Regions from separate parts of the Homo sapiens genome. Here region 2 is linked to region 1. A link means that fine-mapping ties the variant in region 1 to the expression of a gene that starts in the linked region. Tissue or cell type: whole blood. Region 1 holds a variant in brackets; the other region holds the start of a gene. All regions are shown on one strand. Distances are between the middles of the regions.

Region 1 (8,183 bases):
CATCTCTCTGGGCCCCAAGTCAGAGAATCTGATTCTGTGCACCTAAGGGGGTGAGGAACTGGGGCTGCGGACCCTGCATCTTTTATAAGCATCTTATGTGAATCTGACACAAGTGCCCCAAAGAGCACCTTAAGAAACACATAAGCATGTTGATTAGTGACTGACCTGAAACACAGTCAACAAATGTTTTTCAAGTAGACAGAGGCAAGCTGATCTGCAGAGGGAAAGGACAGGGCTGAAGACTGGGGAGATGGAGCAAGTGCAGGAGGAATGTGGTAGGGAGTCCATGAGAGATGGATGGAAGGATCGTGTAGCAGCAGAGACCCAGTTTAGAAAACACATATTCCTAGAGGAGACTTTGAGATTGGATTTGTAACTTTCTTCATCAACTCCCAAGAGCCTGGTGGCAGGAGCCAAGCAGACAGATGGTACAGTTTTCCCAGAACTGGAAAACCCCAAACACAGTAGAAGATAGGGGGCACAGGCATCCACCAAGGGGAGAGAGAATCAGGGAACCAGGGCACTGTTGAGAAAGCTGGTCAGGGGTTCAAGTTGGCCAGGAAGATAGTACCTCTACTATCTACCTATAATTTTTTTAAAAAACCCCAAAGTCCTAGGACCCCACATCTCCTCCAACCACTACCTCATTTCTCTGCCCCACCTCGACAGCCAAGCACTTCAAGAGAGTTGTGCCTACACATGTTTTACCCACTTCTCTGCTGTTGTTCACTTCTCGACCCCCACCAAAATGGCTCTTGAGTCTTGACAGTTTCTGCAATGGCCTCCGCGTTGTCCGTGCACACTCCATCATCTTGCACACATTCCTCAGTATCGCAGAGGGAGCTGACCACTCCCTGATTCCTAGAATATTCTCTTCTCATGTCTTTCTGGTTTTATGTATTTTGCCCCAAAAAGTGGCAGCAGGGGAGTTCCCACACAAGAAAGTGCAACACACTATCCTGAAGTGGGGCTGGTTGGGATTCCAAAGAAAGGAGCACTAAGCACCAGTGAGATCAGTCCAAAACATTTATTAGGGGAACTTACTTACAGAAGTGCTGCAGTGATCCCTGCACCGAACAGCGAGAGAAAAGGGATGTTCTGCCCAGGCACAAATGCAGTGAGGGGTCCAGGGTATGGAGTTTTTATGAGGGTTTAAGGAGTTTGGCTCAGGGATGGGGCCAGTTTCTTTCAGTGTTTTAGGCAACAATCTAGATACCTTTGTCAGTGTCTGGGAATGTTCAAGGCCCCAGTTTGGGATTAAGCCTGCTGGGAATAACCCACATTTGGCTGGGTCACAGAGTGGTCAAGGCACTCTGTGATTTTCTATCAAGACACAGAAAGAAAGCGGGAGAGCTGAAGGGACCTACATAAGCACTATTGGCATTTGGGCCATATTTGAGGTTTACAACATAATGTTATGTATAGATAGTATACATAATGATATATATATAGATAGTAAAATGGTTACTGCAGTGAAGTAGGTTAACATCCATCATTGCACATAGTTACTTTTTTTGTGACAAGGGCAACTAAAATCTACTTAACCAAAATCCGTAATACAATTTTTCATCCTCATGCTATACATTAGATCTCTAGACTTGTTCATCCTATATAACTGTTATTTTGTATCCTTTGACTTACATCTTCCTATTTTTTCCTTCTCTACCCCCTTTGATAATCACTCCCTTATCTATCTCTGCATATTTGAGCTCTTTTTTTAAAAAAATGTTTCACATATAAGAGAGATCATGCAATATTTTTCTTTCTCTTTCTGGCTTACTTCACTTAGCATAATGTCTTCCAGGTCCATCTTTGTTGTGGAGAATGGCAAGATCTCTTTCTGTTCTAGGCTGAATAATATTCCATTACACACACAGACACACACACACACATACACACACACACACGTGTACATGTTCTTTCCCCATTTGTACATTTCCTACATTTTCTTTTCCCAAATGAACATGGACATTTAGGTCGTTTCCATATCCTGGCTATTGTTAATAATGTTGCAATGAACATGGGTCCACAGGTGTCTTTATGAGGTAGTGAGTTTATCTCCTCTAGGTAAATACCCAGAAGTCGGATTGCTGTATCATATGATAGTTTATTTTTAGTTGAGGAACCTCCATACCATTTTCCACCATGGCTATACCAATCTACGTTTCCATCAACAGCATACAGGGTTACCTTTTCTCCAGACCCTTACCAACATTTGCTATCTCTTGTCTTTTTGATAATAGCTATCCTTATGGATGTGAGATAATATCTTATAGTGGTTTTAATTTGCATTTCCCTGATGATTAATGATGTTGAACACCTTTTCATATACCTGTTGGCCATTTTTATATTGTCTTTGGAAAAAATGTCTGTTCAGGTTATTTGCCCATTTTTTAGTTGGGTTTTTTTGTTTTTCTGCTATTGAGTTTTAACAGTTATTTACAAATTTTAGATATTAACTCCTTATCAGATATGTGAAATGCAGTTTTTTGTTTGTTTGTTTTTTCAGTTCGTAGTTTTCCTTTTCTTTCTTTCTTTTTTCTGTGTGAGACAGGGTCTCACTCTGTCACCCAGGCTGGAGTGCAGTGGCATAATAATAGCTCACTGCAGCCCCAAACTCCTGGGCTCAAGTGATCCTCCTGCCTGGGTCTCCTGAGTAGTTGGGACTACAGGTGCATGCCACTATGTCTGGATGATTTAAAAAAAATTTTTTTAGAGATGGAGTCTCACTGTGTTGCCCAGGCTATGCCTTTTCATTTTGTTGTTTGTTTCCTTTGCTGTGAAGAAGGTTTTTAGTTTCATGTAGTTCCATTTATTTATTTTATTTTTGTAGCATGAACTGTTGGTGTGATATCCAAAAAAATTATTACAAAGGCCAATGTTGAGGAGGTTTTCTGCTATTTTCTCTTCTAGGAGATTTATGATTTCTGAGCCAGATAATTCTTTGTTGTTGGCAGCTGCCCTGTGTCCTCTGGGATGGTTGGCAGCACCCCTGGCCCCTGGCCCCACCAGTTGTGATAACCAAAAATGTTTCCAGATATTGTCTGATTCTGATGTCCCCTAGAGAACAAGATCATCCCCATTGAGATCTGCTTCTCTAAATGATGCACTCTCCAAACTCTGTCCTGTAACCTTTTCTGTCCTTTCTCTGCACAATTAGACTCATCCGTTCCATGGCTTTGAGTACCATCTGCGTGATAATGACTCCCATTCATGCTCCACGTTGAGATTTGTGGCCCACTTTGATGTTCTAGACCCTGGGCTAAATTAAGGTAAATTAAGCCTGGGGCTTTTCAAATTAGACAGAGGGAATGTAAGCCCCTGTTCTACTCTTGCTGTGTAACTTTAACTCTTTTAACCTTTGTTTCTCTGTCTGAAAAACAAATAATAAAGATGTCAAAGCTGTAAAGATGATCATTAGAGTCCTTGGCACATAGTAAGTTGCTAAGTATTATTATAACATTCATAATTCTGATCTCAATGCCTTCAGGCTATGCACAAAGGGCTTCTGGACTTAGGGTCATTCAATAGAATGTTATAGACTGTTGAAAGTTCAACTCTAGAGCCTGAGAGACCTGGGTTCAAATCCTGAATCTACAATTCTGCTCTATGACCTCTCTAAGGCTCGGTTTCTTCCTGCTTGGAAAAGGGGAATAATAATATTACCCACTTTGGAGGGTGAATCAAATGAGATCATCCTAGGAAAATCAATTAACATGATGTCTAACATACCAGTACTTAATAAACATTAGTAATTATTATTAGGGTAACATTAGAGAAGCTGATCTTTAACTGAATCTCAAGGGCTATAGAAAGAGCAGTCTCGGCAGAGCATGAATAATGGGACAGGGTAAGGAAAAGTGAGCTATAATCTGGGAATGACAAGGAGTTCTGGATTGCTAGTGCAAGGTTAGGGCTTGAGATGAAACTAATGAATTGTCATCTAAATGCCCTTCCACGCCAGTTTGGGACTATGGGCTTTATCCTTTTAGTACCTGCTAGCAGAAATTGTTTTTTGGTTTTTTTTGGCAAGGGGAGAGGGACACCAAAGAGTTTTAGATTAGGCAACAACATGATGATTAAATTTTCAACTTAGGAAGAGAGCTCTCATCAATATGGAAGAGCTTGGAGAAG[A/G]TAAGAACAGAGGCAGGAAGGCTGGGTAGGAGATTGTGGCATGAACTCCAGTGAGAGATCAGGAAGGCTGCTCATCAGGAGATGAATGCCACAGACATCAAAGAGCTAACAACTGATGAGTTGAATGCAGGGGGCTGAGTAGGACTCTGAGGCTTTTTGCTTGGTCGCACGTGGTGGACCGGTGGTCCATTGAACCCTCTGCTGTCTCCTCATCCCACCACTGCCCTCTCCTCTCTCCTCTTCCCTCCTTAGCTAAGCTCATCATCTCAGTAACACTTCTGCCATAGCCCATAACTTCTTTGCCTCTTGTCCTCACACCAATCTAGCAAAACTCCAGCCCTGAATGAACACATCTTTTCTCTTCTTTGTGCTTACACCTGAGCCCTGCACCTGGAAAAAGTCACATTTCAGTGCAGATTGGCCAGTTCACATCATGCTAATTTCCTAGAGCTGCTGTAACAAATTGCCACACATTTGGTGGCTTAAAACAACAGAAATTTAATTATCTTACAATTCTGGGGTCCAGAAATTCAAAATTCATCTCACTGGGCCAAAATTAAGGTGTCAACAGGACCACACTCCCTCTGGGGGCTCTAGGGCAGTGGTCCCAAACCTTTTTGGCACCAGGGACTAGTTTCCTGGAGAACAGTTTTTCCATGGGCTGCAGTAGGGGGAATGGTTTCAGGATAAAACTGTTCTACCTCAGATCATCAGGCATTAGATTCTCATAAGGAGTACACAACCTAGATCCCTTGCATGTGCAGTTCACCATAGGGTTTGCACTTTTATGAGAATTGAATGCCGCCACTTACTTGACAGGAGGTGTATTAGGGTTTTCTAGAGGGACAGAACTGATAGGAGATATATATGTGAATTTATTAAGAATTAACTCACACAATCACAGGGTCCCACAATCAGCTGTCTGCAAGCTGAGGAGCAAGGAGAGCCAGTCCAAGTCCCAAAACTGAAGAACTTGGAGTCTGATGTTCAAGGATAGGAAGAATCCAGCATGGGAGAAAGATGTAGTCTGGGAGGCTAGGCCAGTCTCTCCTTTTCACATTTTCTGCCTGCTTTATATTCATTGACAGCTAATTAGATGGTGCCCACACAGCTGATTAGATGGTGCCCACCCAGATTAAGGGTGGGTCTGCCTTCCCCAGTCCACTGACTCAAATGTTAATCTCCTTTCGCAACACCCTCACAGACACACCCAGGGTCAATACTTTGCATCCTTCAATCCAATCAAGTTGACACTCAGTATTAACCATCACAGGAGGTGAAGCTCAGGCGGTAATGCTGGCTCACCCCGATCTCCTGCTGTGTGGCCCAGCTCCTAACAGGCCACAGACTGGGGGCTGGGGACTCCTGCTCTAGGGACGATTTGTTCCTTGCCTCTTGCGGCTTCTGGTGACTGTCAGCAGGCTTGTGTGTGGCTGCATCACTCTACTCTCTGCCTCCATCCTCACGTGGCCTTCTCCTTGTCTCTGTCTCAAAGCTCCCTCTGCCACTCTCTTTTAAGGATACATATGATTGCATTTAAGGCTTCCAGATAGTCTAGAATAAACATCTCCTCTCAAGATCCTTAAATAAATCATATCTTTTGCCATATAAGGTACTATTCACACTTTCTGGGGATTAGAAGTGAACATGCAGTAGTCCCTTTGTATCTGCAGGTTCTGCATCCACTGATTCAGCCAAAAATATTGGAAAAATAAAAATTAAAAATTAATACAGATTTTAAAAATACAGTATAACAACTATTTACAAAGTATTACATCACATTAGATATTATAAGTAATCTGGAGATGCTTTAAAGTATACAGAAGGAGTATATGGGAGGAGTAGCTGTGGATTTTGATATTCACAGGATGATGCTGGAACCAACCCCCGACAAATACCAAGGAATGATTGTATTTCGCGGGGACATTTTTCTTCCTACCATTTACACTTATGCAGGACCACTGACCTTGGAGGGCCCTTGACCTGCCTGGCAATCTGACCAAATTACTCTGGAAGGCTTGTCCTCCCACTTTCCCTAATGCTGATTCCTTTCATTCCTGACCCACCTATGGGTCACATCACTTTTCCCACATCATTCTCAACAAGTGACCTTGTTGTGTTCTCTATGGGGGGAAAAGAAAAGAAAGAAAAAGAAATCCCTGGACCTGGACCAGAATTTCTTAACTTGTTGCTAAAGTTAATAAACCTACCTGCATCTTTCCTCACTTCTTCTCCTACTAAAATAATGGATCTCTCCATCCCTGTCCTGAGACCATCTCTACTCAGGCTCTGGATACCACTCTCTCCTGCTTCCTCAGGAACCTTAAATGGCCAATCACCCCACCTTTGTTTTGTAGAGTCAGCCTTTTCTTCTTGATAAGGTCCTTCCCTTCAGCTCAAGTTTTAAAACTCTTCCTTCAGGAATTTTCCTTCTTAAAAGAACAATTTAAAAACCTTACAACAAACAAAATTCCACCCCCTGGCCAATCCATCACTAAGTCCTGCTGATGGTACCTTGTAAGTCTTTCTAATTCACCAACTTCTCCCCTTCTCAGCCTGCTATGAGTCCAGTCTGTCATCACATACTCCTGGACGACCATAGTAACCTTTCTGCATCCATTTTTGGCACCTCACAATTGCTCTGTTAAGCTGCCTTCAGTTGTGTGTGATTGGTATGTGAGCTCCATGAGGTCAGGGACTTAGTTCCATTCATGTGTTCCCTGTGTCCTCATCATCTTGAAAAGGGCCAGAAACACAGTAGCTGTTCAATAAATGTTTGTTGAAGGTATTCACATAATTTATCACTAATTTCAGGAGGAAGACAAAGTTCCTTAACAGCCCAAAAGGCCCAGAAAGGCCTGACCCCTACTCATCTCTCCACCTCATCTTGTGTCATCTTCCCTTGTTCCCTGAGCTCTAGACACATTGGTCTTCTATGAACGCTCCCAGTTTTCTCCTGCCCCAGGGTATGTGTAGAGAAATGTTTCCTCATTGTTTAGAACATTCCCCTCTGCCCCAACCCAACTTTTCCTAATAAATACCACTCAGCCTTCAGATCTCAGCTCATATATAGCAAGTTGCTTCCTTGGAAAATCTTTCCTTAGCACCATTATATGCTCTGTTATGTTCTCGTTGCACATATATCTGTCATAGAAATTTCCCAGTAAGAACTGTGTTCATATTTGGTGACTATTTGATTCATGTCTGTCTTAGTCCATTCAGACTGCTATAACAAAATATCTTAGACTCAGTGATTTACAAACAACAGAATTTATTGCTTACAATTCTGGAGGCTGAGCAGTCCAAGATCAAGGCACCAGCAGATTTGTTGTCTGGTAAGGGCCTGTTCCCCATACATGGCACCTTCTTGCTGCATCTTCATGTGGAGGAAGGGTAAGAGAGCTCACTCAGGTCTCTTTTATAAGGACACTAATTCCATTTATGAGGGTGGAGCCCTCATCACTTAATCACTTCCCAAAGGTTCCACCACTTAATACTATCACATTGGCTATTAGATTCAACATAAGAACTTGATGGAGGGGGCTGTCAACATTCAGACTGTATCAATGTCTGTCTTTCCCATCAAATGAGGACAGGGGCCACTATATTCCCAGTGCTTAGCATACTGTCTGACACACAGAGATGCTCAATAGGTATGCACTGCAGGAACAAATGAAGGGATAATGGAATAATGGCAAGGCTGAGATCAGTTGCAGGAGGAGAAGGTTTAGTGGAAGGGTCACAACTCAGTTTTGCCCATGTTGGAGGGCCCCACAGCTAATTCAGCTGGAGAGGTACACTCTTGTTTGGGAATCTGGGCTGGGAGCTAAGGACAGAGGGCAGGCTGGATATCTAGACTTAGGTGGTTGGCAACCCTGTAGTAGATGCAAAAGATGGGCCATATAAGAGGATTCATGTCTAGAGATGAGAGGGGGATGGGATTAAGGGCAGACTGGGAGCTCAGAAAGGAAGACCCACAGATTAAAAAAAGATGAGCTAAGTGTAGAGATGTAAAGGAGGGACGAGGTTGAGGGGCACGTGAAGCAGCA
Region 2 (8,183 bases), 43 kb before region 1:
GGCACTGAGGGTAGGCTTGTTAAAAAGTTTTTATTCAGAGAAAAAATATTTATGGAACCCCTACCAGGGGCCGGGCACTACGATGTGCACGGAAAATACAGTGGTAAGCCCCATAGACATCCCCTACCCTTCTGGAGCTTAGAATTTAGAATGGAGACAAATACTGAACAAATGTAAAATTTTAAACATCAAACTTATAAATCAATGGGTCATTATAAATCTTAATATTAAAAGAAGCCAGGTGTGGTGGCTCATGCCTGTAGTCCCAACACTTTGGGAGGCTGAGGCAGGAAGATTGCTTGAGCCCAAGAGTTTGAGACCAACCTGAGCAACATAGGAAGACCCTGCCTCAAGAAGAAAGAAGAAAGAGGAAAGGAGAAAGGAGAAAGAAGAAGGAGGAGGAGGAGAGGGAGGAGGAAGAAGGAAGAAGAAGGAGGAGGAGGAGGAGGAGATTAAAAGAAAAGGTACTCATGAGCTTCAGCAGAGTTTTGGGGGCTGGATCTATTCTAGGAAATCAGAAAGGCCTTCTTTGGGGAGGCAGTTTTGCACTGAGATCTGAAGAGTACATAGGAGTTGGCCAATGGAGAGTGGTGGCTAGGAGAGACCAAAGAGCATGATAGGATTCCAGGCAGAGAGAACAGCACAGGCAAAGCCCATGAGAGAAGAGCTGCATGGCTGGAGAAGCAGATCAAGCAGAGCCTTGGAGGCCTGGCTGAAGATTCTGTCTTTATTCTGAGAGCCCTGAAAAACCACCAAGAAAAAATGTTAACCTCAGGATTGACATTCAAATCTGCATTTTTAAAAAGATCACTTGGGCTTCAGTGCAGAAGACAGATGGAAGGAGAGCACAAGTAGACAAGGGCAACCCAGTTAGGAAGATGAGAGAGGATGTCAACACAGACAGGGGTAGTGGTGGAGAAGAGCGTGAAACTTGATGTGGTGATGGATCGGATGAGTGGAGAAGACAGCAGAGGTCTGAGTGACAGCCAAGCTGGTTTAGGAAAACCTAGCTCATGTAGTGGGATTGGAGCTTGGTGAGCTGGTTAGAGCCTGCCGTCATAGCCCAGATGATAGGGCGAACACTGTGTACTGGAAAGTACCTCATTTGGTGTTGGGGATGCCTGTTTTAAATCCTGGCTCTTTCCCTTAATAGCCATGGAACATTACCTCAGCAGGTAATTTCATAGGCTCCTAATCTGAACAATGGGAGTGCGGAGGTGAATTGGGACTGCCTACTTCCCATAGTTTTCCTGTCAATATCCAATAAAAAGTTAAATATTGCATTCCTGCCTACTTCATGCCCACCCATCTCCAACTTAGATTTGAACCTTTTGTAGATGAATAGAGGTTCAAGAGCACAGATTTGAGCTTTCAGACATAAAATAAGCTTTGTGAAGACAGGGGTCACAATTTATTCATTTCTGTAGTTTCCTGCCCTCTGAGATAAGATCAGGTACACTTTCAAGAACCACTTATTTTAGTTTGTAGCATACATCACAATTATAATTTTAAAAGATTCATATAATTATGTATTTAATATTTGCCTTTGCCACAGGCCTGTAAAATCCTCAAAGGCAAGTAACATATCTGTGTTTTGTATCCAAGCACTGAGCACGTGGAGGGTCTTTGTCATGAATGAATGGATGGATAGAAGGATGCATGGATGGATGGATGGATGAATTTTTGTTCCGTCTTCTACCTACCGGTCAGCACAGAGTCTAGCTCCAAATCTACACTTAATGAAAGTTTGCTGGATGAATGGGACCGTGCAACTTGGAGTGCAGCATGAGCTCTGAGCCAGTCGAGTGAAGATGCAGACAATTCCCTCAGCACTCAGACATGGATCTGAGCCTCACCTCAAAAAGGAGGGCCGATCAGCTGGATCAGGTGCTGCTAGGGTCAAGAAGGGCTAGGGATGAGAGAAGAGCATAATTGGCTTCAGCAAGGGGTTACTTTCAGGTGACCTCTGAGAGAAGGCGTCCAGTTAATAGTGGCAGTGGGAATTCCAGCACAAGCACTAAGGAGTAAGTGGGCAGGCAGGGAGGAATGGAGATCTCCCATGCACCTAGCGCCCTGGGCCTGTTTGTAGCATTATGAAAGAGAAAACCCTGACCTGGAAAGCAAAGGAGATTGCTTGCTAATTGTAGGCACTTGAGGTGTGTCGAAGGCCCTGGGCAAAGAGAAGACGAGGAAACCAAAGCTTCTGAGGGCACCTGGGGAGGGATGTTTGTGTGCACTGAGAGGCAGGGGGCTTATGGTATCCCCAAGCGGGTGAGGGAGCAGGCGCCACTAGAGACCAACTAGAGTGTTTTATATGGGTCATATCATTTACTTCTAGCATATCACCCCACTACCTCTAAGAAGGATGTACTGGCACCCACCCCCACTTCCTTGTTCTCCAGAGCAGGAAACAAGCTTGGAGAGTGCGATAACTAGCCCAAGCTTCACAATGGGTGAGTGGCAGGACTGAGGTTTGATTCGGGTCTCTTCCCAGAGAGACACTGGGAGAGATTCTTGCCCCAGGTCTTTTCCCTTCAGGCCCTCAGGCTCAGCACCTCTCTGAACATCTGTCCCTGGGGAGTGAGAATCTGAACTAAAATGTAAGCCAAGAAAACACAGGCTCTTCATTGAATCTTTGGAAACTCCTTTCCTGGGCTGTAGGAGGACCTTCCTGAGCCTTAGGCACTTTTGCCTTTGCTGGCTCTTTCCTCCAAGTCAAGCATATTTTATGACTGTGGAGGTATAAATACAAATATATTAACATTATATAGTAAAACATTTTGTTTGACATAAATTTTTTCTTCTGATTTTTACAGAAAACATTTTCATAGATCTCCAAAAGTATCGTGGGCCCTAAGCGCTGTAGCTAAGTCGTTTCTCCTTTCTCAGCCTCCAGTCTGACATGTTCCACTATGGCCTTGGGAAGAGCAATGGGCCCGGAGTCGCCGCATCTAACCCTGCTGTAACTGGTCGCAAGTCACAGTTTGCTCATCTATAAAGTGAGCGAAAGTAATGTAATCTTTATTGGGAGTAGGGAACATGAAGGCGAGTCGATACAGTAAGTAAGCCGCCAAGCATATTGCTAGGCACAGAGCAGGTGTGCAACAAAAGTTATTTCTCAGGCTTTCCCTCCTCTGAGCGCCGTCCTCCAGAGGGTCCGGAGTGTAGCTGGGGGTTGGAGCAGCAGCCTCCTAGGCGATGGGACAGAGCCCACAGGGTCCGGTATGCCACGGTTTCTTCGTCAGACCCTGGGAATCCAACGTCGCAAAATAAACACGGCCGCGCCGCTAATCGCCAGTTCGGAGGAAACAAAACAGCGCTGCGCTGGGGGATCTGGGCAAAATCAGCCCTCCCTCCTCCCGCTCCTTCGCCGCGGCCCTCCCCTCCTCGCGCTGCTCTCGTTCGCTTGGCTCAGCTCAGCTCAGCTCAGCGCAGCTCCGCGGCCGCCAAGCCGAGGCGGGCACGGTCTCCGAGTCGCGGACGCCAGCTCCGAGCTCCCTCTCTCCGCCGCGCCTCCGCCAGGTCGCGCCTTCGTCGGGACCACTTCGGGCAGGAGTCGCGTGGCGAAGGCCTGCGGCCGCGGCACAAAGTTGGGGGCCGCGAAGATGAGGCTGTCCCCGGCGCCCCTGAAGCTGAGCCGGACTCCGGCACTGCTGGCCCTGGCGCTGCCCCTGGCCGCGGCGCTGGCCTTCTCCGACGAGACCCTGGACAAAGTGCCCAAGTCAGAGGGCTACTGCAGCCGTATCCTGCGCGCCCAGGGCACGCGGCGCGAGGGCTACACCGAGTTCAGCCTCCGCGTGGAGGGCGACCCCGACTTCTACAAGCCGGGAACCAGCTACCGCGGTAAGTGGCCGCCCGGCGTGGCATTAGGAGAGCGGGACCCGGTCCCCGGAGGGCGCCGACCTCGCGGTGCCGGAGGAGGGCGCGCGGTCTCCGGGCGCGTGGCGCGGGTGCAGCCCGGCAAGGGCCCTTCTGTCCTGGCTGCCCTCGGCCCTTGCAGTCGCGAGCTCGGCGCGGATCATAATCCAGCGTCCCGGGCCGTCGCGGGGGCCGCAGCCAGGAGAGGCACCCCGCGTTTCCGACGCGCGGTTCCCAGGCGGAGGATGTAACTGAGCCACACGTCACGCCGGCCTGACTGCAAGGGAGGCTCGCTTCTCCCCCGGCCGTCTGCAGGAGGGAAGTAAAACTGCCTTTCTCCAAATCGGTCTGGAGGGGACCCAGGCTTCTCTTGGTCGGGTCCCGGGCAAGGCAGCCACTCCAGCTTTCCCCGCTCAGTCCCTGAAGGAGAGGGTACCCGATTCTCAAAGACTGGCCCTGGGCGGGACAGCCACTCCGGCTTCCCTGGATAGGTCCCTTCAGGAGAAGGGACTTTGGCTTCTCCCTAACCGGTCCCGGGGTGCGGGAAGGAGGGGCAGGGACAGCCTAAAGCTCCTCGAAAGGGTCCTTGGAAAGAACCCCAAATTATTCTCTCGTGGTCCCAGACGAGATAGAGTATCTTGGGTTTCCAGAACAGGTTCCCAGTGGGGACAGGGTCCTCAAAGAGCTTGGGGTAAGCTCCGAGCTGCAAGGGGAATTGGATGAAGATGGAAAGAGAAGCCCCGATGCCCGAGGCCTGCTCCCTGGAGGCCGGGGAACCTTGGCTCCGGCAGCTCGGAGTCTCCACGTCCCAGGGATGTCGCGCCTACGCCGCTCGGCTGAGAGTGGGGTTTCGGGAGCTCAGGGAGGAGGTGTCCAAGCAGGTGAGAGCCTCCTAGGCGGGACAGGCAGTTCGACCAGCACCGATCTGAAGACGCCTGACTCTGTCCCCACGCCCGCCACCTCGCTCCTCAGCAGGGTCATCTCCCCAGACATCGTTTCCCCGTGCAGCAGCAGCCGCTCTCCGGGTGGGGGACAGGTAACCAGGAAGGGAAGCGAGCCTGTCTGGCCTCACCTTAGCTCCCGCCAGGGAGCGTGTCCTCTCACCCTCGCCCCTTCATAAGTCAGCTCTGGTGCTAAGCAGGGATGAGCGGGTCACTGGGGCACCTGGTGGGGCAAATGGGCTCCCAGCTGCTGTACTTTCCTCCTCGCCTTCCCAGTTCCCCAGAGAGCCTTGGACGGAAGCGGTGGGAGCAACACAGGAGAAAGTCTGGGGCAGCGTCAGCGGGCGCCAGGGTCACGCCGGAGACCAAAGCCAGGGGCCACCCTTCTTGGAGCGCTTTTCCCCCTTTCCCGGGTTTGTGTCCCCGACTTTCTCCACCCGGAGCTACCCAAAGCCGGCTCCTTGGTGCCCTTGGCACCTTGGCGTGCTGAGCACTTTGCGAGGAACAGTCTGACCCCGGCGCGCAGCTCCGCGGGATCCTGGGTACTCCACGAAGAAAGATTCTGGGCGGAGAACACCCCGCCCAGCCCGGGAGGGAGCGCGCGGCTTGGCACCGCGGCTAGAGCGAGCCGCGCCGACGGGCGGCGACTGCCACTCGGTGCAGCCGGGAGGCGGCCGATCCTCCCTGTGGACCGCAGGGAAGCGGGTATGACTTCAGTGGCCTATTCGGCCCTCCCCAAAACTGAGGACCTGAGTTCACAGGGGAAACTGTCCCCGCTCCACGTAGCAGAGAAAGAAGTGGCTCTGGAGTCCAACAGACTTGGGTTTACTCGCTGTGTGACCTTGTGCAAGTCATTTAATTTCTCTGCACCTATTTCCTAGCTGGAAAAAAAAAAAAGCTGTTTATCCACCCTCTCTTGGTGGTAGGGAGTAAATGAGTTTACAAAGGTGAGTGTGCCTGAGCTAAAAGAGATTCCTAATAAGCCTAACAGTTGAATGTGAGGCCTTTATTGGTTTACTAATGGAGGTAGGTTCTTGATCAGATTTTTGTTTTTGAAGAGTGTTGTGCGTTTGAAAGCAGGTTTCCTCAGCTCTCCTCCAGTCCCATTCATCTACCAGTGGTTATTTGGGTCCTCATGAATTAATTGAATGAATGAATGAGGTATTTTTTCATATCAGGAGCCTTGCCTAAGACTGTTGCTAATGCAAGCCCAGGAAGATTTTTTCAGTGACTTAGACTAGTCTGAGGTTCAGGCCAAGTGTACCCAGCGTCTCTTTTCACACTAATCCTCCGTGTTTTAGTTGAGCATTGGCAGCTGGTGGCCCTAGCACTGGGAAGGAGATACAGCTGGTATTCACGGGGCCAAAGAGGTTTCAGAACTACCTAAACGTCCAGGGCCAGCAGGTGGGGAACTGGGACTGGATAGGGAGTGTCCTGGACTTTCACCCTACAGGCTACTCCTGCCTAAACAGCCATCTGGACTTTGACACCCCAACTCAGGCTATAGATTGGGCAATCATCTTTTCTCCCTTCTTATGGCTAAAAGACCTTGGAAGAGATCTTGCAGGAACCATGCTGAGGTTTTCCAAGTAAATATCCTGCAATTAGCAAACCTGATTCTGCCACTCAAAGTCCGAAAGAAAAGGTACTGGCCTAGTTTGTGACATTTTCTGTTGGCTCCTTCTTTCTTAGAATAATTATGTTAAAAGTAACTCAAACACATTCTGCTCATTGTCCTGACTTAAGGCTGTGAAGCTGGCATTCCCCTGGTGTTCTATTTGCTTTTTAATTTTTTCATGAATTAGGATTCCTCACAATCCTTGGAATCAATGACTTGTTTTCCTGCCTCAAATCTTTGTCCACAGTATTCCAGTTCATCCCCAAGCAGCTTCTGTTCTTTGTGCCTGCTGTCTAAGTACAGTCTTTAGGTACTCTAGACCGGAATAAAATGGTCACTATTAAAAAAGACTGAAACATGGAGTTTCTTCCCCAAAACCTGAATCCAGTTGAGATCATTATTTTGTCTTTTCCAAGTTGTTAGTATTATATTGATTTCCTTTTCTTTCCCACCACTTCTCTCTACTCTCCCTCCCTCTTCCCACAGTCCCCCCTCCCTCCAACGGCAATAATTGTGCTTTAGAAAGCTCTGAAAGGCCTGCTCTGTTTCTGGCCAGGGCCTCCTTTGAAAAGGAGATTACAGTGATTAAAAATAACAAGTTGAGGATCCTCAAGGGGCTTCCCTTATACAGGAGGACAATTCGCAGGACCAGCCTTTCCCAGATCACAATTTCAAGCCAAACAGAAGAAAATCCACTGAAATATTCAAGAATTGATTGAAAATAAAAGAGGCTCTTTTGTCTTACTGGAGGTCTGTTTATTAGGAAAATAAAGTCAGACTCTGGCTAATGAGAGTGGCTTTTCCTAGATGTATTTTAAAGAGACATTTCAAGGAACTTGATGGGAAAAGAATGTCCAGTAGAGGTTTCAAAAGCTGGTCCAACTTCAAGCATAATTGAGGGGTTTATCCTAAACTGGGAGGTTTGGAGACCTCCAAAGCTGCATGGTTTTTCCTTTGTCCCACACTGAGACACACACTGACCACAGGGGTGGACACCTCAGCCTGGTGGAAAGCGCACAGGCTTTGATGTTGGGTGGGTTGGTTTCAGGTCCTCCTTGGTCACATATTCACTGTGTGATCTCAGGAAGCCACTTCACCTCTCTGAGCCAATTTCTCCATCTGTAAAATGAGGGTGTTTTGATTTTTTCCCAGCATTCCTGTGAGAATTAGAAATAATTCATGTCAAAAGAAATTGTCACACAGTGGTTGCTAAAAAAATATGTTATGAGATGATTATTTTGGAAATAGAAAAATACTTAGCAGCAAAGCCCTGGATAAGATATTGTGTTAAGTTCTTCCGACTCATCTCACTTATTCCTTACAGTACTTTGAGGAAGTTTCTGATCGTTACTGTTTTATGGATGAGAAGACTAAACCTCAGAGAAGTTTATTCCTTATCCATGGTCACACAGCTAATAATCAGCAGAATCAGGATACAGTCTCAGGTCTGTCTGACTCCTAAATCTGTGCTCTTAACCAGTCTTATGTGCTGACTCAATGAAATTAGTTGGGAATAGAATGAAATTCACTCAGCTACCCTCAGCCTTCTGGATGGTGAGCCTTCCTTCAAGGAAAACAGAACAACAAATCAAGATAGTAACTGACATCTCTCAGGAGAATTACTTTATATTACTACAAAGTAATATAAAGTGATAAATCCTTATTCACATTTGCTGTTTTCTCTTATTGGCTTCAGTGTTGCATTTCCCCATAAACTAGAGGATTAATTTAGAAACATGAAGAACCTTGTCAGCCTTTGGCCAATT

What was found. PIP is the estimated chance that this variant, and not a neighbour inherited with it, causes the effect.
Region 2: SPON1 starts here. The variant in region 1 is fine-mapped to the expression of SPON1 in whole blood (INTERVAL, PIP above 0.99).

The regions. Positions count from the first base shown.
Region 1 is chr11:14,002,278-14,010,460 of GRCh38, forward strand. The region is part of intron 2 of SPON1 (spondin 1); the gene reads left to right. Among named protein-coding and RNA genes, the nearest start is that of SPON1, 44 kb to the left of the region's middle. The variant A/G (reference allele first, on the strand shown) is at 4,135.
Region 2 is chr11:13,959,300-13,967,482 of GRCh38, forward strand. It overlaps SPON1 (spondin 1), which reads left to right and starts at 3,424. Exons shown (of 16, transcript NM_006108.4): 1 at 3,424-3,843. The coding sequence starts at 3,606. LOC124902637 (a long non-coding RNA gene) reads left to right here and starts at 3,858. Exons shown (of 2, transcript XR_007062602.1): 1 at 3,858-5,746; 2 at 7,742-8,183. RefSeq lists an enhancer at 6,709-7,227.